3 linked regions of the Homo sapiens genome follow. The protein of the gene in region 3 interacts with the protein of the main gene of each other region in a biochemical or structural test. Each region holds a gene or a part of one and is shown on either strand. Other genes may lie near its edges.

Region 1 (7,794 bases), on a different chromosome or scaffold from region 3:
GGAGCCCAGGGTGGGAGGACCACTTGAGCTTAGGACTTCAAAACCAGCCTGGGCAACAAAGCAAGACCCCATCTCTACAAAAAAACTTTAAAAATCAGCCAGGCCTGGTGGCTCATGTGTGTAGTCCTGGTTACTCCGGAGGCTGAGGTGGGAGGAATGCTTGAGCCCAGGAGTTTGAGGCTACCATGAGCTATGATTGCACCACTGTACTCCAGCCTGGGCAACAGAGTGAGACCCTGTCTCTAAAAAAGAAAAAGGAAAAAAAAAAAAAAGAACTGGAGGCCAGGTGCAGTGGCTCACATCTGTAATCCCAGTACTTTGGGAGGCTGAGGTGAGCGGATCACCTGAGGCCAGGAGTTCAAGACCAGCTTGCCCAACATGGTGAAACCCCATCTCTACTAAAAATATAAAAATTAGCTAGGTGTGGTGGCAGGCGCCTGTAATCCCAGCTACTCAGGAGGCTGAGGCACGAGAATAGCTTGAGCCCAGAAGGCGGAGGCTGCAGTGAGTGGAGATCATGCCACTGCACTTCAGCCTGGGTGACAGAGCGTGACTCTGTCTTAAAAAAAAAAAAAAAAAAAAAAAAAAAAGAACTGGCTCTGCAGAGGCTTCCAGTGGAGGTGAGGCTGGGCCTGAAGTTTGGGAGCATCTGGTTTAATAATTAGGGGTGTGGGGTGAGGTGTGGAACCCAAGCGGTGTCTCCACAGGCAGGAACAGCCCTGAATTTGGCCACCCTCAGGGCTGTTCCTCATGGAGCCCAGGCATGGCTGTGAAGCTGGACCTGAGCCCTGCATCTGTTACTAGGAAGGGGAGGGTGTGGAGGAGCTCTTCTTGGGGCAGGGCAGGGTGAAGACAACTGTTCCAGGCCAGCAGGGGCACAGTAAAGAGGATGGCAGAGCCCCATGCAGAGATCAGATGGGAAAGGGAGACAAGGTTGTGTTCTGAGGACATTCTTGGATTTTATGAAAAGACTTTAAAAAACCCCCGAAACCCAGAAACATTTTCTTGAATTTTCACCTCAGCTCATCATATCTCTGCTCTTAGCAAGTGTGCCCGATTTAATAAAATCAGTACTGGCAGCCAGCAGCATGTTTTTGTTCTAGAAACTTAGACTACTTTTTTTTTTTTTTTTTTTTTTGAGATGGAGTTTTGCTCTTGTTGCCCAGGCTGGAGAGCAATGGCACAATCTGGGCTCACTGCAACCTCTGCCTCCCGGGTTCAAGTGATTCTCCTGCCTCAGTCTCCGGAGTAGCTGGGATTACAGGCATGCGCCACCACACCTGGCTAATTTTATATTTTTAGTAGAGACGGGGTTTCTCCATGTTGGTCAGGCTGGTCTTGAGCTCCCGACCTCAGGTGATCCACCCGCCTCAGCCTCCCAAAGTGCTGGGATTACAGGCATGAGCTACTGCACCCGGCTACCTTAGACTGTCTTTTACAAAATAAGAGGAATGGCCAGGCATGGTGGCTCACGCCTGTAATCCCAGCACTTCGGGAGGCCGAGACAGGCAGATCACGAGGTCAAGAGATTGAGACCATCCTGGCCAACATGGTGAAACCCTGTCTCTACTAAAAATACAAAAATTAGCCGGGTATGGTGGCGGCCGCCTGTAGTCCCAGCTACTCAGGAGGCTGAGGCAGGAGAATCGCTTCAACCCAGGAGGCGAAGGTTGCAGTGAGCCAAGATTGCGCCACTGCACTCCAGCCTGGGTGACAGAGCAAGACTCTGTCTCGAAAAAATAAAAAAATATAAAAAAAGAGGAATAAATGAATAATAAGTAAAACAGTACAGAAAGGTTATAAAGTCAATAGTAAGTCTCTACCCTCACCACCCCATTCACTTGCCCCTCAGCACCCCACCCCTCAAAAAAAAAAAAAAACCCACTCCCTAGAGGTAAATACTATGAACCATTTTGAATCTGTATAGGGCACCAACAGGAGCCTGTGTGGTGTGTACTCTCAAGCTTCTGGGTAAAGCTTGCTCTGGGTCTCTTCTGGGCTGAACCTTTTCCAGGAAGGGGGAAGGGAGAAGGGACCGCAGCTGTGGTGTGGCAGAGGCAGGCACAGGACCCTTCCAGAGAGGCTTCTCAGGGTCCCGGGAGGGTGATCAGCTGCCCTGCTTCAGTCAGGCGTCACCGGCTCGCCTGCCGGCCCCTGGCCCGGATTTTCTCCACTGTGTCTAAGGGCTTTTTTTCACCTTCTCAGGATCCCTCTGTGACCCAGCTGACCAACGCCCCGCAGGGCGGCCTGGCGGAATTCAACCCCTTCTCAGAGGTTGGTGAGCAGGCCCTCTTTCCAAGTCCCATGGCCCTCTAGGGTGGTGCTGGGGTGTCCGGGGCAGGGATCCTTGGCAAGGACAGAAGCAGCTCTGAGAAGCGGCAGTCCTCAAAGGGACAGTCCTAACATGAACCCGGGAGGCAGGGTAAGGATGGCAAAGCCACCAAACGCTCTGTAAAATTCTCCCCTTGGGATCTGTGACCGGGGCCCCTCCCCAAGGAGGTCAGGGCAGTGCCCAAGTGTGCTGGACCCAGCGAGCCCAGGGGTGCCGGGTTAGGGATCAGATGGCCTGAACCTGAGGCTTGTTGGCTGGGAAGCCACAGGGGAAGGCCCAGTGCAGGCCCCGAGGGAGTCCCCTCACAGGCAGGGGCACATCACTCATCCTGCTGTGGGTTTGCCCCCTCGTCACCAGCTAATGGAGTCCCACTCAATTCTGTCTTTTGATTTGTTCCATGTAGACAAATGCAGCGACAACAGTTCCTGTCACCCAACTCCCTGGGTCCTCACAGCCAGCGGTTCTCCAGCCATCAGTGGAACCAACCCAGCCGACCCCCCAGGTAGTGCTGACAAAGAACTCTGGCCTTTTCTCTCCAGTGAGGGAATCATCCAGACCAGTAGCTGAGCCCTGAGGCTGGGGGCAAGCAGAGAGCTTTCAGCCTTGGCCCCCTAAGGGCCCTCTTGCTAATTTGTTCGGAGCTGGTCACCTACAAGTAGAGGGGCTGCTCTGCCAATTAATATCCTTACTCCCTCCATCCCACCCACCACCACCACTGAGAAATAAGCTCTACTCACCAGGCCGGGCTCCTCGGTGCCTCCAGAGAGGGCATTTGTCCCTGTTGTACCCCTCCAGGTCCTCCTCGGGCCTTTGGCTTGTTCTCTCTTCCTTGGGGCCCAGAATCTCTCTCTTTTTTTTAACTTCATTAATTCTCACCTTCCTTCCTGTCTTCCTTTGTCCCTTCACCAAATACTGTGAATCTTGCCTGCTTTGTGCCTGGTGCTCCACTGCGCCGCCTCACTGCCCTCCCGCTGCACCCCTCGCTGCCCCTATGAGCGTGACCCATGGTGGAGTTGTGTGTTGCAGCTCCTGCTTAGACAGGCCAGCAAGTTCCCGCCTGCCCAATTCCTGGCAGTGAGCGAGCTCTCAGAGAGGCAGATGCTCCTAGGAGGAGAAAGTATTCTCAGAGACAGCTACATGCGAAAGCTTCCGAAGGTAGGCCTAATGTAGATGAGCAGGAGGAAGGGCAGGGCACCCGGAGCCTGCCCCACACCCCTCCCAGGCCCCAGAGCCCTGTGGAGGTGAGGCAGGCCTTACATGCGGAGTTGCCTTTCTGTGCAGCTGGGTGGTGGGCTGTAGGGAGCTGGGTCCTTCTCAGCTGGCGTCACAGACTTGGAGGAGGTCAAGACCCCCAGCGTGGCACAGCGGGGTCAGTTCTGCTCCTGCTTCCGCCCCCAGTGCCTGAAACTTGGCTCTCCACGTCAGCCTTAGGTCTTTGAAGAGCTTTTGGAGAGGTTGGTGTGTGTATACATGTGTGTGTGTACACATGTGCCTGGTTTGTCATCCTGTGAAATGACCAGTTTGAGATCTCTCCCTAAAAAGGACTGTAGTCTCATCCTTCAGGAGGAACCTGGCCCAAATGGCAGCAGCTGCCAGCAGGTGCAGGGCCCCGGGGCCAGGTCTGTTCAGCCTCACATACAGTCAGTCCCTTACTGTTACTCAGAGGCTCTACCCCGCCTGGAGAGGAGATAAGTGTGGACTCTGCATGCCACTAAAGCCAGGCAGGGCAGGGCCACACCTAAGGGGCTGTCCTGGGGTGTAGCCAATTGCAGTTTAGGGGGACCTCAGGAGGCAGCTCCTGGGGGCAGGCCATGGGGCAGGGTGCTTGTACAGATCCTGAGGCTCAGGCACACGCCATCTGCCTTCACGTGTCTCCCCTTTCCACTCACTGTTAGCAGGCTTGCACTGTTTTCCTTCTCACACATCCACCAGGCTCTTCAAATGAGGCTTGGGTCTGTGGGTTTCTTATTATAGTTTAGTTTCTTGTGAGGTCTTTTTCCCAAAGGTCACAATCACTGAGCGCTGCCTTGACCCAGTATGGGGAAGAGGTGGAGAAGCCAATGGGGGTAGTTTTCCCAACTCAAGCTTAGGGATGAGGGGAGAGGACAGCTTAGTCATGGCCAAGGGGTCAGGAAGGTGTGGGGGCAGTGGAAGACAGGTTGGCCTCTCTAAGGTGGTCTCTGGTACCTAAGACACTCTGTGGGGCGGGGACTGCTTCTGGGACTCCTTGATGGCTGTCCCTGCCTGGGGCAAGGCCTCTCTGCCTGCCTACCCAGGCTGACACTGTTTCTGTTTGTTGTGTCTGGCTGTCCCTGTACCTCCCCTGTTCTCTCCAGGCCGTGGTGTCTGCAGCCCAGGCAGGCCTGCTCCGGCAGCAGGAAGAACTGGACAGGAAAGCTGCCGAGCTGGAACGCAAGGAGCGGGAGCTGCAGAACACTGTAGCCAACTTGCATGGTAAGGGAGGCTGCTGGGGCCTGGGGCTGCCCTGCCTGGCATAGAAGAGTGTCCTGAAACCTGTGCGGAGGGCCTCCCAGCATTCACCCTGAGCTGCCTTAGAGTTTTGTGGGGCTCTTCTCATCACAGGATGCTGGTCCTGGGAAGAGCAGTAAGTTGCAAGTCAGGAGACCTGCAGTGTAGTTGTAATGGCTGTAGATTACTTCTGCACTCCTTCCTAGCTCTCAAATTCCTTGATTCTTTGATAGCATAGGGGCTTTGGTCCCACAATTCCTTGCTAATGATGATGAACTGAGTTCTCACACTTATGGGCTGCTTGTTAATAAAAATAATCACTTAGGCCATTTAGCTGTCTGTATTTCCCAGTGCATTTGGGGTCTTTTATCTCCATGTGAGCTTGTTGGTATCTCTTTGGGTTCCATTATCCTGTTCTGTCCCACTCCATGCTCCATGCAGACTCCAAGCCCCGCTTGCTGGAGCCCCTCTGGGAACCCTGGTTTGGCCCATACACTATGCTGGCGTGCATGCACCTTGATGCCCCTTCTGAGGCTGGGCCCTTACCTCGTCACTCTTTTTGCCCTACCCAGTGAGACAGAACAACTGGCCCCCTCTGCCCTCGTGGTGCCCTGTGAAGCCCTGCTTCTATCAGGATTTCTCCACAGAGATCCCTGCCGACTACCAGCGGATATGCAAGATGCTCTACTATCTGTGGATGTGTGAGTCCCACTCCTGCCTTCCAAGCGCAAGGGCGAATTGGGTGTGACTTGAGAGCCCCATCTTGGTCCTGGCTGCTCCTCCCTGGTATACAGGCTTTCAGCAGACTCCAGCCTTCCTCAGTGCCTGGGCTGGGTTGGGGAGATGCCTCTGCCCACAGGCTGCCCCCTGTCTGGAAACCTCCTTGAAAGGGGCAGTCCAGACCACCGATCAGGGAGGGTGGGACTAACTAGAGGCTTCCAAGTTCCTTCAGAGCTCACTGCACTAAAAGGCCCTCCTTAGGTGAAGGCCTTCCCTGCCCACAGGCCTGTGAACTCTGAGGGGTGAGGAAGGAGACTCCCCCTGCAGCTCCATCAGGGGCCATCCAGGGCCAGGGAAAAGCATTGCTAAGAGAAAGACTTCCTTCCCCAAGGACCAGCCCTGGGTCTGCATCCTCCCTCCACACCCCTCAGATACCCGGGCTGTCCCATCACCTCTCAGGAACGTAGTTTGATCCCTGGTTTTGAGGTCCCAGAAAACCAGGATATGGGAACTATCCCTGCCTAGGTACAGAGCGGGCTCCTCTGTTTCAGCAGCTGCCTTCGCAGCATGAACCTCACCTCTCCTAGGGAGTGGCTGCCACATTGGAGCCCCTCAGCCACTGTGGCACAAGTCATAACTCTGTCCTGTCCCCTTCCCCAGTGCATTCAGTGACTCTGTTTCTGAACCTGCTTGCCTGCCTGGCCTGGTTCTCGGGCAACAGCTCCAAGGGAGTGGACTTTGGCCTCTCCATCCTGTGGTTTCTGATCTTCACTCCCTGTGCCTTCCTTTGTTGGTACCGACCCATCTATAAGGCCTTTAGGTGAGTGAGGCCGGGGCAAGGGGTGAGACTTTATGGCTGGCATCCCAGGTAGCAGGCTAAGGGCTATAGGCCCTGGGACCCCATCTGAGTCTTAGAGCAGAATAGAATGTAGGGAAATCCACTTTCCCTACATTCTGTTCCTCTGTTCCCACCCAGAGCAGAGATTGGGGGCCCCGTTCCTCAGTTTCTGTACCTGAGGTCTGCTCTGGGCCCTGTCCTTGGACCAGGCACAGGAGACCTAGAGAAGGGACCTCCCATCCCACTGCTCCCAGTCTGGCTGATGCCGTTACTGGGAAGAGGGAGGGGACGCTCTTTGGGAACTCCCTTCTGAGGCTCTAAGGTGTGCTTCTCTGGTAGTATCAGATGAGTGCTCTCCAGGGCTCTTTCTCCATGACTATTGATGCTTCCCAATAAAGACTGCCAACACCTAAGCTAGATACTGGGAACATAGCTGGATACACCTTACAGACCCCCAGGGGTTCTGGAATTGTACCTCAGGGTTTATGCTTTCAGGGCTGGGAGCCCAGCAGGCCCTGGGAAGAGGGATTAGGGTAGTGGCTGAACCATCCCTGTACCACTGGAGGCCCTGAACCCTCACTGTGATCTAGCCCTCAAGGACACAGAGATGGAAGTCCTCAGCTCGTGAGAGAGTTTTGTCTGGTGTCCCCTGTTTCCCAAATATTTTTTTCTTCCAGTCAGATGTACAGGTTTTGTTTTTTTCTCATTGTTCTTTGTTACCACGTATCCTCAAGTTCTATTGTTTTTGTTTTGAGAGGGAGTCTCGCTCTGTCACCCAGGCTGGAGTGCAATGATGCGATCTCGGCTCACTGCAACCTCCTCCTCCTGGGTTCAAATGATTCTCCTGCCTCAGCCTCCGGAGTAGCTGGGCTTACAGGCACACACAATCACACCTGGCTAATTTTTGTATTTTTAGTAGCGATGGGGTTTCCCCATGTTGGCCAGGCTGGTCTTGAACTTGTGACCTCAAGTGATCCACCTGTCTCGGCCTCCCAAAGTGCTGGGATTACGAGTGTGAACCACCGTGCCCAGCCTGTTTTGTTTTTTTGAGACAGAATCTCAGTCTGTTACCCAGGCTGGAGTGCAATGGCGCAGTCTCGGCTCACTGCAACCTCCGCCTCCCAGGTTCAAGTGAGTCTCCTGTCTCAGCCTCCCAAGTAGCTGGGATTACAGGCGCACACCACCACGCCCAGCTAATTTTTGTGTTTTTAGTAGAGACAGGGTTTTGCCATGTTGGCTAGGCTGGTCTCAAATTCTTGGCCTCATACAGTTTTATTATTAAGAGATTTACTTAGTTTTACTTATTATTAGAGATTTTACTTATTATATAGAGATTTACTTATTATTAAGAGATTGGCTTAGTTTTTCTTGCCTGTTATGAAACGCAAGTACTCCAGGAGATGGAGTGTTAGGTTCTTTGTTTTTTATTTACTTA
Region 2 (8,372 bases), on a different chromosome or scaffold from region 3:
GGAAGGAGGCATTTGACAAAGTCTTTGCTAGCTATGTGACTAGGATAAGGATGTGTCAGTATATCATTATGCAACTTGATGAATTCTCGGTCAGCTGAACAGTCATAGTCATATTAGCATAGAATAGTGATTCGGGTCAGGCACGATGGCTCATGCCTGTAATCCCAGCACTTTGGGAGGCTGAGGCAGGCAGATCACCTGAGGTCAGGAGCTCAAGACCAGCCTGACCAACGTGGAGAAACGCCGTCTCTACTAAAAGTACAAAATTAGCCAGGGTGGTGGTGCATGCCTGTAATCCCAGCTACTTGGGAGGCTGAGGCAGGAGAATCACTTGAACCCGGGAGGCGGAGGTTGCAGTGAGCCGAGATCACGCCATTGCACTCCAGCCTAGGCAACAAGAGCAAAACTCCGTCTCAAAAAAGAAAAAGAAAAAAAAAGTGATTTGATTTCTGGCCTTTAATAAGTGCTTAATGAATCTTGGATGAATAAACGAATGAATGAACAAAGAAATGAAAGAATGAACCAGCCAACTGACCAGGACGATGTCCATAGAGGTCTACATGGGATTCCCTCACCTTGGTCTTGTTGTGTTCAACATTTCTATCAATGATTTGAATCCCAGACACACAAAGCATATTTACTATACTTGGAAACAGAACAAATCTGGGAAGATCATTAATGTAATAGATCACAGAAGAAAAATCCAATATGATCTTGCCAGGTTAAAAACAGGGCCAAGATGTACAGGCATCAGCCAAAGCCCTATGTATGAGTTTAACATGTCAACTGGACCTTGGGAGCCTCCTATTTTGAGGGTGATCGTGAAAGAGACTGGGAAGTGTTATATCCTTCCCCATCATTCAGCCTTCTCACAGAAGTTCCAAAGGCTATTTGGTGGTAAAACTCCTTTCTGCTTGCTAGTCCTCATCCTTTTTCCTCCTTTTATGGTATTTGACACTATTCTACACTGTTAACTTGATGCCCTTCACAGAACCTTTCTCGAATTTCATGATTCCACTTTGGTCTTATTTCCCTCGTTTTCTAATTTGTCCTTCTTTGTTTCTTTTACCCTCTTTTTAAAGTTTTTCCTTTACCTTTACATTTAAAAGGTAGTGTACCCTAAGCTCTAATCTTGGCATACTTGAAATCTGTATCTCTCCCTGGTTGTTTAACATTGATTTAAAATAGATTTTGTTGAGAACCCGCTATGTGCCCAGAAGTGTTCCAAGAGCTCTTAGAATACAGTGGAGAATAAGACAACAATTTCTGCCTTTAAGGAGCCTGTATTCTAGGAGGATGGGAAGTGATGAACAAATAAGTGAATAACAGTGTTGAGTCGTGGTTAAAGCTATGATGAAACTCAAATCCAGATTAAGGGGACCAGGAATGTCAGGGCTGCTATTTTAGACAAGAGTCAGGGAGAGTCCCCTGAGAAGATGGCATTTGAGCAGAACTGGGCTTCTTGTACTCCCAGGGCTGCCTCCACACTGAAGACTCCCGGATGCTGCTCTCTGGCCAGCTCCTCTCTTCTGGAGCCATATTCCTGAATGCCTCTTAGTCCCTGCAGGATGTCCTAAGAGCACCTTCAACCACGCTTGATAATCTCCCCTACCAAACTTCTTCCTTCTCTTTGGTTCCCCATATTGGTTCCCAGCATGACCATCTCCTCACTCACCCAAGCTAGAAACTCTAGCCTCCCCTTCAAATCCTCCTCCACCCCTACTCATACAGATCCAATCCAATGACATCTGGGTCCTCACTTCCTCCCCGTGCCATAGTTCAGGTTCACACTATCTCTTACTGGTACTGTTGCAGGAGACTCCTGACTAGTTTGCCAGCCTCTAGTCTCATACTCCACCCACCCTGTCTTCCACGTTACCAATAGAATGACCTTTGTAAAGCACGATCAGCTCTGCTCTTGAGCCTTCTATCTCTACCTACTGCCTCTAGGGCTAGCAAGGTGTTCAACCTACCTGGTTCCCAACCTACTGGCTCAGCCATCTCCCTTCAGTCCCTCTGTCAGAAAAATCACTTCCTGACCCTTTGACAGTACCCTCTTTTTCCTCTCATATGCCCTTCAGTTTTTCCTAGAACTCTTTCCGTTCCTCTTTCCTGCTTTTCCCTTCCCTACCCTACCCAGCAGGTTTCTAAGCATTACTGCAATAGCCAACTCAACTCTGCAAAGCTTTTTTCAAATTCTCTTCCCCCTCCATCCATTTTCTTTGTTGTGATGCCATAGTGCTTGTGGCAGGCAGGAGCACCCTGTTTTAGAAGAGTTTTCTGTGTCCCATTAGCCGTGGGTTACCTGGAGACAGGCATCGTCACTTGTGCATGTCTGTGCTGCTTGTAGATGTTGGCACTAGGGAGGTTACTTCATGCATGTTTACTGAGCTGGCTGCAATTATACAGAAGACTTACAAACATATAAGTCAAACCACGTGAAACTGCTGTTCTTCTTGGTCAATATCAGCAATTTCATATGTTTATTCTAATCTGTTTTGTTCAGTATTTTGTATTCCTGTTTTGGCTTTCAGAAGTGTTCTTACCTTCAACCAGACTGCCTTAGAGCATGGGGCTCAAAGAAATATTTTCAGCTCTGGAAGACATTTTCCATCCTACTTCTACATATAGAACTTTTCTGGCCAAAAATGGATGCATATCTCAGAAATGTAATAAGCAATACTCTTCTCTCTTCCTCTTGACAATTGTTTTTCAAATGGTTTATCATAAACATCAGTGAGATCTTGAGGCTGTTATAAAGTGATATAATGGTAATTTCTAGAATTGTAATACATTATCCTAGTGAAAAGAAAATGATGAAGTTGTGAATCAGGCAAAAGTGATGAATTGCTCATTTCCATGTAGTTTTTCAGGTGGAAAGTAGATGCAGGTATCAACTGGAGGATGTGTGAATATTTTGTCTAATGGTTTTGATCTCGATATAGAACTAGAGTTGTTCTTAAATTAAGAATGTCTTTCATATTCTGCCTTTTCACCAGCATCACTATTAAAATAATATTCTTAAGCAACAGCCAAAAAATTATTAGGATCTGCTGGTTCTATAATCAGATGTTTTTGCTGGACACTTTAAAAACCAATAACAGCTAATCACAGTGTCCTCTTTTGTGCTGAATTGAATTTTGTTTTGGTTTTAATTCTCATTTGAACTGCTGGGAAAGCAAGCCTGTTACATACCAACACTTGCCACCTTTCTATATTTGAATGGACCTAAGTAGTCTTTGCAAAAAATGTCTAAGACTGTCCTATCCGGACACACCATAGGGTTTTCCCATGGAAATAATTATATCACAAACGAATCTTTTTTCTAAAGTCTGTGGTTTTAGGCTGCCATACTTCTCAATCCCCTGACCAGGAGACAATAAAATTGGCTGGGGCCTTAATTTGAGGGAATACATATTTGATTGTGGGCGTGGTCTTCTAAGACAATGGTAAAGGGAAAAGCAAGATGTAAAATTAAACGTTGAAACAAGCTAAACTGGTTTTCAAAATCTTCTCGACTGTAACACATCTAGAAGTTCTAAATATAAGAAGGTTTGAGGGATTATCTAAAACCAAGGTATTAAAAGATCAGGTTTTTAGAAGATTTTGATTCAGTACCTTATACTTTTTTTTCAAGGAGTTGAGCAAGAAACCATCAAAACTTAGGAGAGTGATTTTAGGAGAGGGTGGTCTCCAACTTGTCTTTATGTTTGCTTCCAAGATAAGTGTTAAGCCCAACCAACTAGCAGACTATTCATGATCTGGGAATCCTATCAGTGGTCATCCCTGTATTTGACTTGAGTCTCTCTAATTTTTTATAGGGACGGCGAAGGCCAGTTGGTCAGCCAAATGCATAAAAAATGGTGCAGAAATTAGTGATGCTTGGAAACATGGCTCATAATCATGATAAAGGCTTATATGTTGGTATGGGTTGAGAATGTTGGCCTCATGGTATCTGGGTATGCAAGAAGGCAAATCATTATTGGTATACTAGCCTTTATGTTGAATATTTAGAGAGCTCTTGAAAACACCCCTTCGATTTGGAGTGAGGAATTCTAATGAGTAAAACTCCATGTAGAAATAACCATATCCGATTAAAAAACTATTTTGATTTTCATTCCAAGAAACTACCAAAATGTCAGCTCGATATACTTGTGAACATGTTATGCTTATTTTTAAATAAGGAAGGGTGCCTTTTTACAAATTAGGCTTGAGTTTCTCTTACTATCATATATATTAACTATAGACAAGGGAGTGGGTTCTAATAACAAATTGCTACATTGCTATCGTTAAATCCGTGTTTGAGTTTTCTTCCCTCTAATGTATTTTCTCCCCCTCTTTAATTTATATTTTTAAAAAGCAATGTACTTATCTAGAAATTGTATGAAAGACAAATATTTAAGAAAGTAAATAGAGACTATGGGCACGTCCTTTGAATATGTTTTGCCAGGGTCGAGGGGTAAATGAAATAAACTGATACATCATAAATGGACCACACAGGAAAGAAAGTGTCATGCCTATGCAAAGACATGCATTCTCCTTAGAGACGACATATATTGCTGTCGACCAACAAAGTCACGTGGTGGGAGGGGGCTCTTTTCTTTCTCCTTCACATCCCCTCCTCTGATGTCACAAATCTATTTTTTCCTGGGAGAATTAATTAGCATTCATTGGGTGTACTTGGCTAGAAGAAATGAGGTGGGGAGAAAGAGAGAGAGAGAGAGAGATCGAGATTGAGATCTTAAGAAAGAGAGCAAGGAGGAAGAGCCCGGTGGGGAGCAGGTCCTTCTCCCCCACCCCCCTACCCCCAACTCCCACTGGAGCCGCATTGAGACTGTAGGCACCACCGGGCGCCGAATGGCTGTTTTCTAACTGGGATCCTCGGTGACGTATGGCTGCCTGCCCCTTGGCAGCTGTCTTTATGGACCAGTAGGCAGAGCGAAATTGACGCTGACAAGACTTTTGCATCTTGGAAGGGACTGTAATCTACTGTAGTGAAGAACAGAGCCTCTCAATCAGACGGGTGTAAATAAGAGACGGAGGGGAGTCCAAAAGAAAAGGAAGAGGAGGAAAAACAAGTGTGTGTTGGGGGGAACAGGGGGAAAAGCATTTTTGGTGGATGGTATGAAGCCAGCCATGGAAACTGCAGCCGAGGAAAATACTGAACAAAGCCAAGAGAGAAAAGGTACCCAGCGCTCTGACAATAGCCTGTTTAAAGCTTTTCACTGGGGGGTGCTTAAAAAGGGTTAGCTGGGTTTTGTCTCTCTTTTAAAATGGCTCTGAGACAATCCCTATGGCATGGTCTTGCTTTCAGGGTTGATTTTTTTCCTGTGGGCTGATGTTAAGTTAATAGAGCAGCCTTTCTTCAATCCATTCCTGTTCCAAATCTTTCTACCGACGTGATATTTCATAGAGGGATGTCTATAGTTTGTCACCTTGGGCTGATGCATTGGGGAAACTGTCTTTTTTTATTAATATAATTAATCGTAACTTAGGTCTTGTGTCCTGCATGTTATATTCCAGGAACGTGGAATGTGTAGTTTTCTGCTAATGCTGAGGAGGAACTGGAGGGGCATGCATGTTAATTCTGCTTTGGTTCCGCTAATGCTGTAGTGATTTGGGCATTCTCTAATTTTCTTATTCTAATATGATTGCTCTTTCTTGTATCAGGCCCTGACTACGACATGTAATAATCATTTACAGTTGGAGCTTCAGAGAGGGGACATCAGCTCTGTCACCCAGTGCTGATGGAAAGGCAGGGCGGGGGATCTTCTGCTAATTATGACTTGGAGACTGGGGGGAAGAAAATTGATAAAGGTCCTATTTCTTAAAGAGAATCTTAGAACGTACCACAATTTTCATATACAGAATGGTTTTTTGGAGAATAAAGTGTTTTTGCAGTAAGAAAATGGCAGAAAGGAACTAAAATTAATCTCTTTTTTCTAAATAATGACTGATTTCAAGTTTGATGTCCCATAGAATCGGCTCAGCCACTGTTAGGTTAATGGATCTCACTGCATTGTAATTTTCCCTCACTCAAAGTCATAGACTGTCATAAATGCCCAAAAACATATTCTGTAACCGCAGTGGCTCTAATATAAAAAGCCATCATGCTAAGGTTATTTCTCACAGCCCTTGCGTCCACTGATAGTCACTAAAGAGTAATTCGCCAGTACGGGGACAAAACTTCGTTTTATTTATAAAGATACAGGCTGAACCATATGAAATTGCTGATAGTCAACCATTTTAAACCTACAAAAACGGCAATTACATGTACTTCAGCTTCACAGTATGCTGGGGTAAAGACTGCTTGTTTTTATATAAAATTTCTTTGGTACACAATAATATTTTATCCTAAACAGAGCAATTTTACTTTTTAAATTAATTTTTTTAGGTATCACACAATACACATAACATAAAATTTACCATTTTAAGTATACGATTCAGTGGCATTAAGTACATAGCACCTTAATTTTAAAATCGTTTGTTTAGTTCAATCCTCTTACCAAATCTACACCTCCCCACCAAAAACCCAGCCTGTATTTTCTTGTGTGTCTTTAAAAAAAAAAAATCTTCATCAATGACCAAATAGCTATAAGAGAAGCTCTTGGGAATATTTATCAAGATGAAGAAGTGAGATCAAAGTTTTTTCCATGATGACTAGAGACTAAGTTGATTGCATGTTGTCGGGGTATGATAATGTAATAGCATTGTCCCAAGGAAGCCTATCACGATTTTATCCTAAAATGATGATTTTACTTAGTACATACTTTTAATTTTTATTAATGTGGTATTCAACCATGGCAGATAAAACCGTTTTGGTCTTTGCAAAAAAATCCCTTTTTTAAATTTCTCTCTGAAAGGAAGCAAAGGTCATATAACCAATATAAAATCATTACTACACAACTGTGTATCTTATCACTTAGTCTTATGGACTGCTATTATTTTATGTCAATTAAATCTTATTTAATAACAGATCTACAGGTTGCTAGTACATCCCTGACAACCCGTATATGAAAAGTCATTAGTTGTGATTTTAGAGACAAAATTAGAAGCAAAAGATAATTTGTGAAGGAACTTTAAAAATTACCTAAATGTATAAACACTAGCTGCTTGTTAAATAATTCAAAAATATCACACTACCAGAAGCTAGTGTGACATGTATGGTACATGCTTGAATAAGAATACAAGCCAGGGGATTTGTTTTTCCTGATCTACAGCAAGAGGGGTTGTGATTGTTGTGTGACCCACCATAATTGTTGATCTGGAGGGTGGCTTATCTAATCTGCATTTAGATGAACAAGTTCATATGCTGGCTACACAAAATCAAAGCCCACACAAGACACTTTGTAGTTTCCCAATTTGCTCACCCATCATCATTAAGGTACACATAGGATAAAATGATAGCCACAAATGTTTCTGCGTGATTGTCACATCAGTATTCCTTCAGATTTAACTTTAAGTTTATTAAAAAATTATTTTTCCATTGAAATTAACATTTGAAAACTTGACATAATTATTTATAGAATGTGTTATATAATTCTTGAGCTGGTGGATCCGTTTTTTATGTTTTTCTTTTAAGCCTTTCAGCAAAGGATTTTATTCATTAAATTTAATCCTGTAAATTTTGTCACTTTACGCAGAGTTTTTTATGCACATATATATTTTTTTTCCTGTGTTTCTCCTTTCCCATCTGTTTTCAGTGGTTGGTGATGGAGTGATGCCTGTCTCTTAATTTGGGGCATTATTGCCCAATGGCTAATACCCAATAGCATGTGAATTAATATCTTTGGATAATTATTGCAGTGTCTATTAAGAACTAAGAATGTAAATTAAACTTAGCTTTATAAATTGACCTTGCTTTTCTAGTTGGGATCTTTCCTGGGAGTTTCAGCGGGACAACACAACCCAGCTATTGTGATTCACTAACTCCTACAAAGAGAGCTCTTTCTTTAAACTTAATCACAATGACTTTGTTTCTACTTTAGACAAAATTAATCCATGTCCTTAAAAAAGGAAAGCATTTGTGTTTTTTCAGTCTGATAGTTTTCATCACAGCATGCTACCAGATACCAAAATTCACAAGAGTATTTAGTAGATATTTAGGGATTTTTAAGGAAAACAAGCAGATTTTCTTAGATGGATGTAAGAAATGCCAAATTATTACAAATGATAGTTTTTAAATTAAAAGCATTAAAGTGTGAAGATTGAGTAAGCAGATTCACTGACATGGAATAAGCAGAGGAAATGAATAAGACAGAATCAAAAGAAATAGATCATGGAACCCAATAATAAAAAGATGGAGAGTCGGTTTCCATTGATTTCAGTGGAGTATTACTTGTTGTCATTTCATTTGTGAAAATAAATGCATC
Region 3 (7,794 bases):
CATTAACCCTGGGGGTGGGTAACAGATCCAAGACCCAGAGACTGGCAAAGCTGCACATGAGAATAAGAGTTTCCACCATATAACAATTCCATGGGATTTCTCAGGACCAGGATTGATATTTCTAAAGTCCATGACAGTTAGCCCCCTCTGATGTCTTCAGCTTCAGAACAGTAGGAAATGTTAAATTGATTTCCGTAGAGTCACAGAGGCTTTGGAATAAAGACCTCTTTCTATTTTAAAGTCCCTTTTGAAAGTGTGAGGGACATGTCTTCAGCCTCTCATGGGTTAGCTAGGGGTGCCCTCGTTTGGGGTATGGGGTTGGTCAAAGCACCGAATCAGGCCAAAGATACAAGCATGCTAACATGCTTGTAACAAGAAGGCCCTGGGACCTCGCCCACTAGATGCCATCATCTGTTTTTTCTCCCTCTGTTGCTCTTTTCTTTTTCCACAAAAACTTCACGGTAAAATAGAGTGGTCATATTGGCTAGATTTTCTTTTTCTGCAAGGGGCAGTTCTAAGGATAAATGATATTTGCTTACTAGACTTTGAGCCATCACAAGACCATCACAGGAAGCAAACCCACTGGTTTTAAAGCCATCATCAGAGTCATCATTTCAAGCCCATAGATTTTGGAGGCCCCAGAACTGGGTGCCAAGGGAGTTGCCCTGTCCCTGCATGGCCTGAACACATGGAAAGATCTCTAAGGCATCGAGCTTCTCTCAAATCTTTGAATAAAAAATGTTTTGGAAACAGGGTCTTATTCTGTCACCCAGGCTGAAGTACAGTGGTGTGATCATGGCTCACTGTAGCCTTGACCTCCCAGGCTCAAGCAATCTTCCCACCTCAGCCTCCTGAGTAGCTGGGACTATAGGTGTGCACTACCATGCCCAGCTCATTTATTTTTTTATAGAGGCAGGGTCTCACTATGTTGCCCAGGCTGGTCTTGAACTCCACCATGCCCAGCCTTCTTTGGAAAATTTCAGGAACATTTAGAAATAAATCAAAAGTTAGATCTTTACAAAGATTCAAAGCAAAGCAACTCAGTAGGAGCAAGGGACCTGCATAGAACCCGAGGTCCTACCTGCGTCTTTGGCCACCTCAGACACATCTTCATTCCTCATCTCAGCCATGTAACCGAGCACTGTGAAGATGACAAATCCCGAAACGAAGCTCGTCATGCAGTTCACCACGCTGGTCACCAGGGCATCTCTGGAGGGGAAAACCCAAGGGGCCGCCTGAGACAGTTCCAAGATCAGGGGTCTAAGGAGCATCTGTCCGTGTGCCTGCCCTGCCTTAGACAGGGCGGCCACAGCAAGGACAAGCAGGCTGAACTCAAGGAACCTCAAGCCTGTCCCGGAGTCCCTTCGCCTTCTCCCAGAACCCAGCTGCCGAGGCCTGAAGCTCTGACTGCCATGACCACCACACATGGTGGAGGGAGAAGAGCAGTCAGGGGTGCTTTAAAAGGCAATCCTGCTAGCACAGACCTCTCCATTTCAAACCAGCCTTGTTCTGGAGCAGGGCCCAGGTTGGAGTGGGGGCCAGGACAGGGCCTGAGCCTCACATTTGTGAGATCCTCAGATTTAGGCTTTATCTTCAAACTAAGTCACAGACTGCCAGCCAGAGAGATACCCTCATTTTTTTTTCTTTTTTTTTTTTTTTTTTGAGACAGAGCCTTGCTCTATTGCCCAGGCTGGAGTGCAGTGGCTTGATCTCAGCTCACTGTACCCTCTGCCTCCCGGGTTCAGGTGATTCTCCTGCTTCCGCCTCCCAAGTAGCTGGGATTACAGGCGCCCACGACCACGCCTGGCTAATTTTTGTATTTTTAGTAGAGATGGGGTTTCCCCATGTTGGCCAGGCTGGTCTCAAACTCCTGATCTCACACTTTTAAATGACAGCCTCATCATACAACTGCAGGGTGGTGTCCCAGTGCAAGGCCACATTGCTTAGGGTACATGTGAATCTCCCTCCCACCTTTAAAAAAATCAGTTTTACAATTATCTTATGCATAGCACAAAGAGATTGATGGATGCTGCCATCTGTGATCAATTAAAATTAAGTCTAAAGATGATGGGTGACATTTATTTATTTATTTATTTATTTATTTTTGAGATAGGGTCTCCCTCTGTTGCACAGGCTGAAGTGCAGTGGCATGAACACAGCTCACTGCAGCCTTAACCTCCCGGGCTCAAGCAATCCTCCTGCTTCAGCCTCCTGAAGAGCTGGGACCATAGGCATGCACCACCACACTCAGCTAATTTTTAAATTTTTTGTAGAGATGGGATCTCACCATGTTGCCCAGGCTGGACTCAAACTCTTAGGCTCAAGTGATCCTCCTGCCTCAGCCTCCCAAAGGGCTAAGATTACAGGTTTGAGCAACTGCACCTGGCCCAGTGGGTGATATTTAAAACCATAATTGGTGTAACATTTCCTGTTCTGTTAAAATTTCTGAAATAGGATTTTGTTGCAAAAATTATGGCATTTTGGCTGGGCACAGTGGCTCACGCCTGTAATCCCAGCACTTTGGGAGGCTGAGGCAGGTGGATCACCTGAGGTCGGGAGTTGGAGACCAGCCTGACCAACATGGAGAAACCCCATCTCTACTAAAAATACAAATTTAGCCAGTCGTGGTGGCGCATGCCTGTCATCCCAGCTACTCGGGAGGCTGAGGCAGGAGAATCGCTTGAACCCGGGAGGCAGAGGTTGTGGTGAGCTGAGATTGCGCCATTGCACTCCAGCCTGGACAACAAGAGCGAAACTCCGTCTCAAAAAAAAAAAAAAAAAAAGAAAAGAAAAGAAAAATTATGGTATTTTGTGTTAGTCAAAATAATGTGATCATCATACTTTTTGTTTATACATAATACAAATAATCACATTACAATTTTTATTGTTAAACACATTGACTAGTTAAACCTAACTACTTAATTGTATGTTGCAGCTTTTTGTAAACTTGCTTTGCAATTTCTCTTTCTTTCTTTCTTTTTTTTTTTTTTTTTTGATGGAATCTCACTCTGTCGCCCAGGCTGGAGTGCAGTGGCACAATCTCGGCTCACCGCAAACTCCACCTCCTGGGTTCACGCCATTCTCCTGTCTCAGCCTCCTGAGTAGCTGGGACTACAGGCGCCCGCCACCACGCCCGGCTAATTTGTTTGTATTTTTAGTAGAGATGGGGTTTCACCGTGTTAGCCAGGATGGTATCGATCTCCTGACCTCGTGATCCACCCGCCTCGGCCTCCCAAAGTGTTGAGATTACAGGTGGGAGCCACCGCACCCCGTCTCTCTCTTTCTTTCTTTCTTTCTTTCCTTCCTTCTTTCTTCTTTCTTTCTTTTTCTTTCCTTCCTTCCTTTCTTTCTTTCTTTCTTTCTTTTTTCTTTCTTTCTTTCTTTCTTTATTTCTCTCTCTCTCTTTCTCTCTCTCTCTTTCTTTCTTTCTGGAATCTTGCTCTGTCACTCAGGCTGGAGTGTAGTGGCAAGATCTCAGCTCACTGCAACTTCTCGTGCCTCAGCCTCCCAAGTGGCTGTGCTTACAGGTGTGCAACACCATGCCTGGCTAATCTTTGTATTTTTAGTACAGACAGGGTTTCGCCATGTTGGCCAGGTTAGCCTGGAACTCCTGACCTCAGGTGATCCACCTGCCTTGGCCTCCCAAAGTGCTGGGATTACAGGCGTGAGCCACCATGTCCAGCCTCTTATTATTTTTATATACAGGAGCGCTGACAAAACCGAAGGGCATGGGGCCCCTCTCAGCCTGAGTGGCCCAGGTGAAGCCACGGCCTGGATGAGTGCTCTGGCCATGGGTGAGCTGGTCAGGGGCCTGCAGCACCCCTGAGGGGCAGTGGTATCAAGGCCTAAGCCTGGCCAGATTCGAGGCCGTCGGTCCAATCACCTTCCTCCACACTAGCTGACTTTCACTCACGCCACTTTCAAGCTTTGCTTGGGGACCCCAGATACTCACTGGTAGCAGTTGTTGTTGAACTTGTTGTAGCTAGCAAAAGCCAGCAGGACCCCAAAGCCCGGACCAAGAGAGAAGAAGATCTGAGCGGCTGCATCTATCCACACCTGGAACACAGCAGGGGTAAGGGCATGGGGTGAGGGGGAGACACAGGCTTACCCTGGCACCAACAGGGTCGCCACTCCTGCCTCCATGTGGCTAAGTGCAGAGGCAGAAAAACAGCTTTTAAGGCTCATTCCAGGCATAGCCATAAACCAAGTGCCAACAAATGTGATTTCTCTTCCTATGATTCAGGCATAAACCCATCCAGTGGCCTCAACTGTACTTTAATGCTTGTATTTCTTGGTTAAAGTATCATTGCAGACTTGCACACTGAAGCCACATTTCAGTTGTCCCTACTGTCCTATTTGGAGGAGGACCAGCTTCGTTTAGTAAAATGACAGACAGGTACACATATTTCCCTCATCATCTTACCCCTGTCTCCAGGAGTTTCTGCCAATTGGGTTTCAAGTAGAAGAGAACACCCCTCCAGGCTCCAGGGAGGGTGGCACCCCTCACCAGCAGGACAGAAAGGATGATATAAGGGAAGGTGGCTGTCACCCACACCACCTGTAAGGAAGAAGGGTTATCACCATGCTGTTCCAGGGAGGGGAGGGGAGGGGAGGGGAGAAGGAGAAGGGAGCGGGGGAGGGGAGGGGAGGGGAGGGAGGTGGGTGAATGGATGTCAGTGTCTTTTATTCTTGAAGACCTTGAGAAAGGAGGGCGAGGTGGTGTGGCAGAAAGATCACAACCCTTGGAGTCACACAGGGATCGGATTCAGGTTGGCCAGGAGAACTACCTCTGAGCCCACTATGCATCTGTAAGGTTGAGGGAGTATCTAGCAGGAAACAATAGCACTGGCCAGTGTATAAAAAGCACTGAACATGGTCCATGATGGGTTTCCAGTAAGTCATTGCCACGATTATTAATTGTGGTACTACCAGTGGGTTGAAGGAATCTTGAAAAAAAAAAATCATGTAATGGTTCTTGGCATTGGCCCATTTCTAGAAAATATTCTTTTTTCTTTTCCTTTTTTTTTTTAGTGAGACAGAATTTCACTCTGCTGCCCAGGAGTGTAATGGCATGATCTTGGCTCACAGAAATCTCCACCTCCCAGGTTCAAGTGATTCTCTTGCCTCAGCCTCCCGAGTAGCTGGGATTACAGGCACCTGCCACCACACCTGGCTATTGTTTTTTTTTGTTTGTTTGTTTGTTTGTTTGTTTGTTTGTTTAAGTAGAGATGAGGTTTCGATGTGTTGGCCAGGCTGGTCTTGAACTCCTGGCCTCAAATGATCCACCCACCTCAGCCTCCCAAAGTGCTGGGATTAGAGACGTGAGCCACCATGCCCAACCCACTTCTAGAATTTTCTAACAAATGCGGTGAAGAGAGAGAGGGTGCATCATGGAATGTGTTTGGTGTGGAAGGAAACAGTGCTGTCTGTCCAGGCTACTGGGTTTTGAGTTTGAGAGCCTGTGGGCCCCTGGGCAGGCCTGGGTCAGCAGCCAGAGCCTTCCTCACCTTGCCAGAGGTCTTGACGCCTTTCCAGATGCTGAAGTAGATAACAGTGAAGATCAGCATGATGCAGAGGGCCAGCTGCCAGCTGATGCCCCCCAGGTCCTGGAGCCCCTTAGACCGGTGGATCTGCAGGACGTGGCGCCTGGGGTGAAGGAGAAAGAAAGGCCCCTGAGAGGCTCTGTAGAGTGACCTGGGCACACATCTGTGCTGCTCCTTTGAGGGTGCCCGGGACAAATGGACACGGTGCTGCTAGGACCAAGTGGTCACTGAGGCCCAGGAAGAGCTGGGATTGGCCCTGCCTGTCCTGAAGGACCACAAAGCACATTTGGCCAACACCCTGGGAAGAGTGTTCAACCTAAAGGCAGACTTCCTGGATTCTCCTTTGCTGGATGGGACCTGAACTCCTTTGACCAATGTGACTGGCTTTTGGGAACATGAGGGATGTGTAAGTGTGGGGAGTTGGCTCCCTTCCCTACCCCAAAGTAGCTCTCTCTTTGGGCTGCCATTGCCTGAAATTCCAGCATTAAAGAAAACTACCTTCCTCAAGCATCTTCTTCCAAAGGGTAGATCCCACTTACGAAGTTGACACATTAAACCATTTGAATAGTTTTGAACTATCAAAGTACTAGGATGCTTCGCCTCCATGACATTTGGCTGAGAGGAGGACCCCGGAAGAAGGGGAGTAATTTTGGAATGTGAAGGGAGGGACGGGCTTGGGCGCATTGGAGCAAACTGACTTGGCGCATGAGAAAGTGCAAGGAGGCACAGCAGGGCCAGGCCGTGGAGCACTTGAGGTAGAGTTTCCCAGCTCCAAATTCTGCTACTCCCACCCCTGATAGCTTCATCTCTCAGAAAGGGGTGAGGAGCCCTTGGCCCTGGCCTTCTTTTTAAGAAGCCAAACCCCAGGGGTGTGGCCTGCCCCTAACAGGCCAACCCCTCACTTACGTGCACTTACGTGTAAAATTCTTCAGCAGGGGACGTGGAATGGAGGGTCCAGGTGATGTTGTCCTCGGAGAAGTAATTGGTGCAGTTGCCAGTGTTCCAGGAGTTCTTGCAGCTGGTCCAGGGCAGCTGGTCCGTGAAGGAGGAGATGAGGTAGTATAGCGCCCAGGCCATGATGGTGTTGTAGTAGGAAGCAATGTAAAAGGCAATGATGCAGATGGCATAACCAATCCCTGGGCAGTGGGTGAGATGGAGAGACAGAGGCCGAGTTTAAGGGTGGCCCAACGGCAAAAGGCTGAAACGGGGCACTGGAGAGCCCCGCAGCCCAGCAGAGGGGTACACGTGGGTGCTGCCCTCCATTCCATTCCAAGGACTCCAGGCCACCGTGGGAAAAGTGGCCCTGCCGTTAGTCACTCATATGTATTTGCAAGGTAACATGTTTTAGAAAATGTGTACATGTCCTGTTAATGCTTTAAAATGTTTACATTAGTTTACTTCTCATTGCCGTTTATTCTGTTTCTCTTTGACAATTTCACACCACTTACGCAGTCAAAACCTTAATTACTCAAGCAGTCTCCCAGGGATGCCTAAGGCCTGACTGATTCCAGAAGAAGGTCCCCAGCTCCCACCCACTGATGGAAATCCCTTCCTGAGAGGCTCCACTTACCCACCCCACCGAGCCCTTCAGTTACCTTTGAAAATCGGGCAGATTTTCCTCCATATTGAAATGCATCCATTTCGGTGGTACTGTCCCAGTGCGAGCTCCATGTAAAAGAGCGGGATTCCCCCAAAAATGGCCATGATGGTGTAGGGGAGGAGGAATGCCCCTGAGGCAGATGAAAGACAATTTCACTCCCTGCCCACGTCTGTCCCAGGATAGCCCAACCAATCTGTGACTGAGAATCACAGTCGCCGGATGATGTGAGTGTCAGGAGCCACCCTGGGCTGAGTGGCCTCATGCTGTGCTCCTCTGGTCTCAGTGCTTTGCTAGAAGCAGTCGTAGGGGGAGCACCATGACTAAAATGAGGTTTCAGAGGAGGCCAAGAGAGCAATTGGGAAGAAAGCCTGGTTTGGGAGTCGACAGAACAGGCAGGATCACATCCACTTATGACTACCTGGAGAACGCTGGGCCACTTCCCCTCTCTGAGCCCCAATTTCCTCCCTATAAAAGAACACAGTTGAGGAGAGCTGAGTTTCCCAAATGTAGCCACACATCATAGTCACCTAGATTCCTGGGTCTACCCCAGACCTCCTGAAGCGGAATCTCCAAGCATGGGCACAACACAAAAATTGTGTTCAAGCTCCCTAGGTGATTCCGATGCAGCCAGTACCTGGGACCCTTGGAACA

The links.
Region 1: the proteins of SLC6A4 (region 3) and SCAMP2 form a complex in vitro, tested with the Homo sapiens proteins (one study listed by BioGRID).
Region 2: the proteins of SLC6A4 (region 3) and GPM6B form a complex in vitro, tested with the Homo sapiens proteins (one study listed by BioGRID).

Annotation. Positions count from the first base shown.
Region 1 is NC_000015.10:74,849,061-74,856,854, reverse strand, and holds part of SCAMP2 (secretory carrier-associated membrane protein 2), read left to right. Parts: intron 1-2,205; coding exon 2,206-2,274; intron 2,275-2,735; coding exon 2,736-2,834; intron 2,835-3,358; coding exon of another isoform or gene 3,359-3,487; intron 3,488-4,668; coding exon 4,669-4,786; intron 4,787-5,373; coding exon 5,374-5,502; intron 5,503-6,181; coding exon 6,182-6,341; intron 6,342-7,794. UniProt on the Homo sapiens protein: Functions in post-Golgi recycling pathways. Acts as a recycling carrier to the cell surface.
Region 2 is NC_000023.11:13,813,657-13,822,028, reverse strand, and holds the start of GPM6B (neuronal membrane glycoprotein M6-b), read left to right. Parts: upstream 1-4,935; 5' UTR 4,936-5,124; coding exon 5,125-5,185; intron 5,186-8,372. UniProt on the Homo sapiens protein: May be involved in neural development. Involved in regulation of osteoblast function and bone formation. Involved in matrix vesicle release by osteoblasts; this function seems to involve maintenance of the actin cytoskeleton.
Region 3 is NC_000017.11:30,211,659-30,219,452, forward strand, and holds part of SLC6A4 (sodium-dependent serotonin transporter), read right to left. Parts: intron 7,274-7,794; coding exon 7,139-7,273; intron 6,680-7,138; coding exon 6,460-6,679; intron 5,647-6,459; coding exon 5,508-5,646; intron 4,559-5,507; coding exon 4,424-4,558; intron 4,057-4,423; coding exon 3,953-4,056; intron 1,210-3,952; coding exon 1,082-1,209; intron 1-1,081.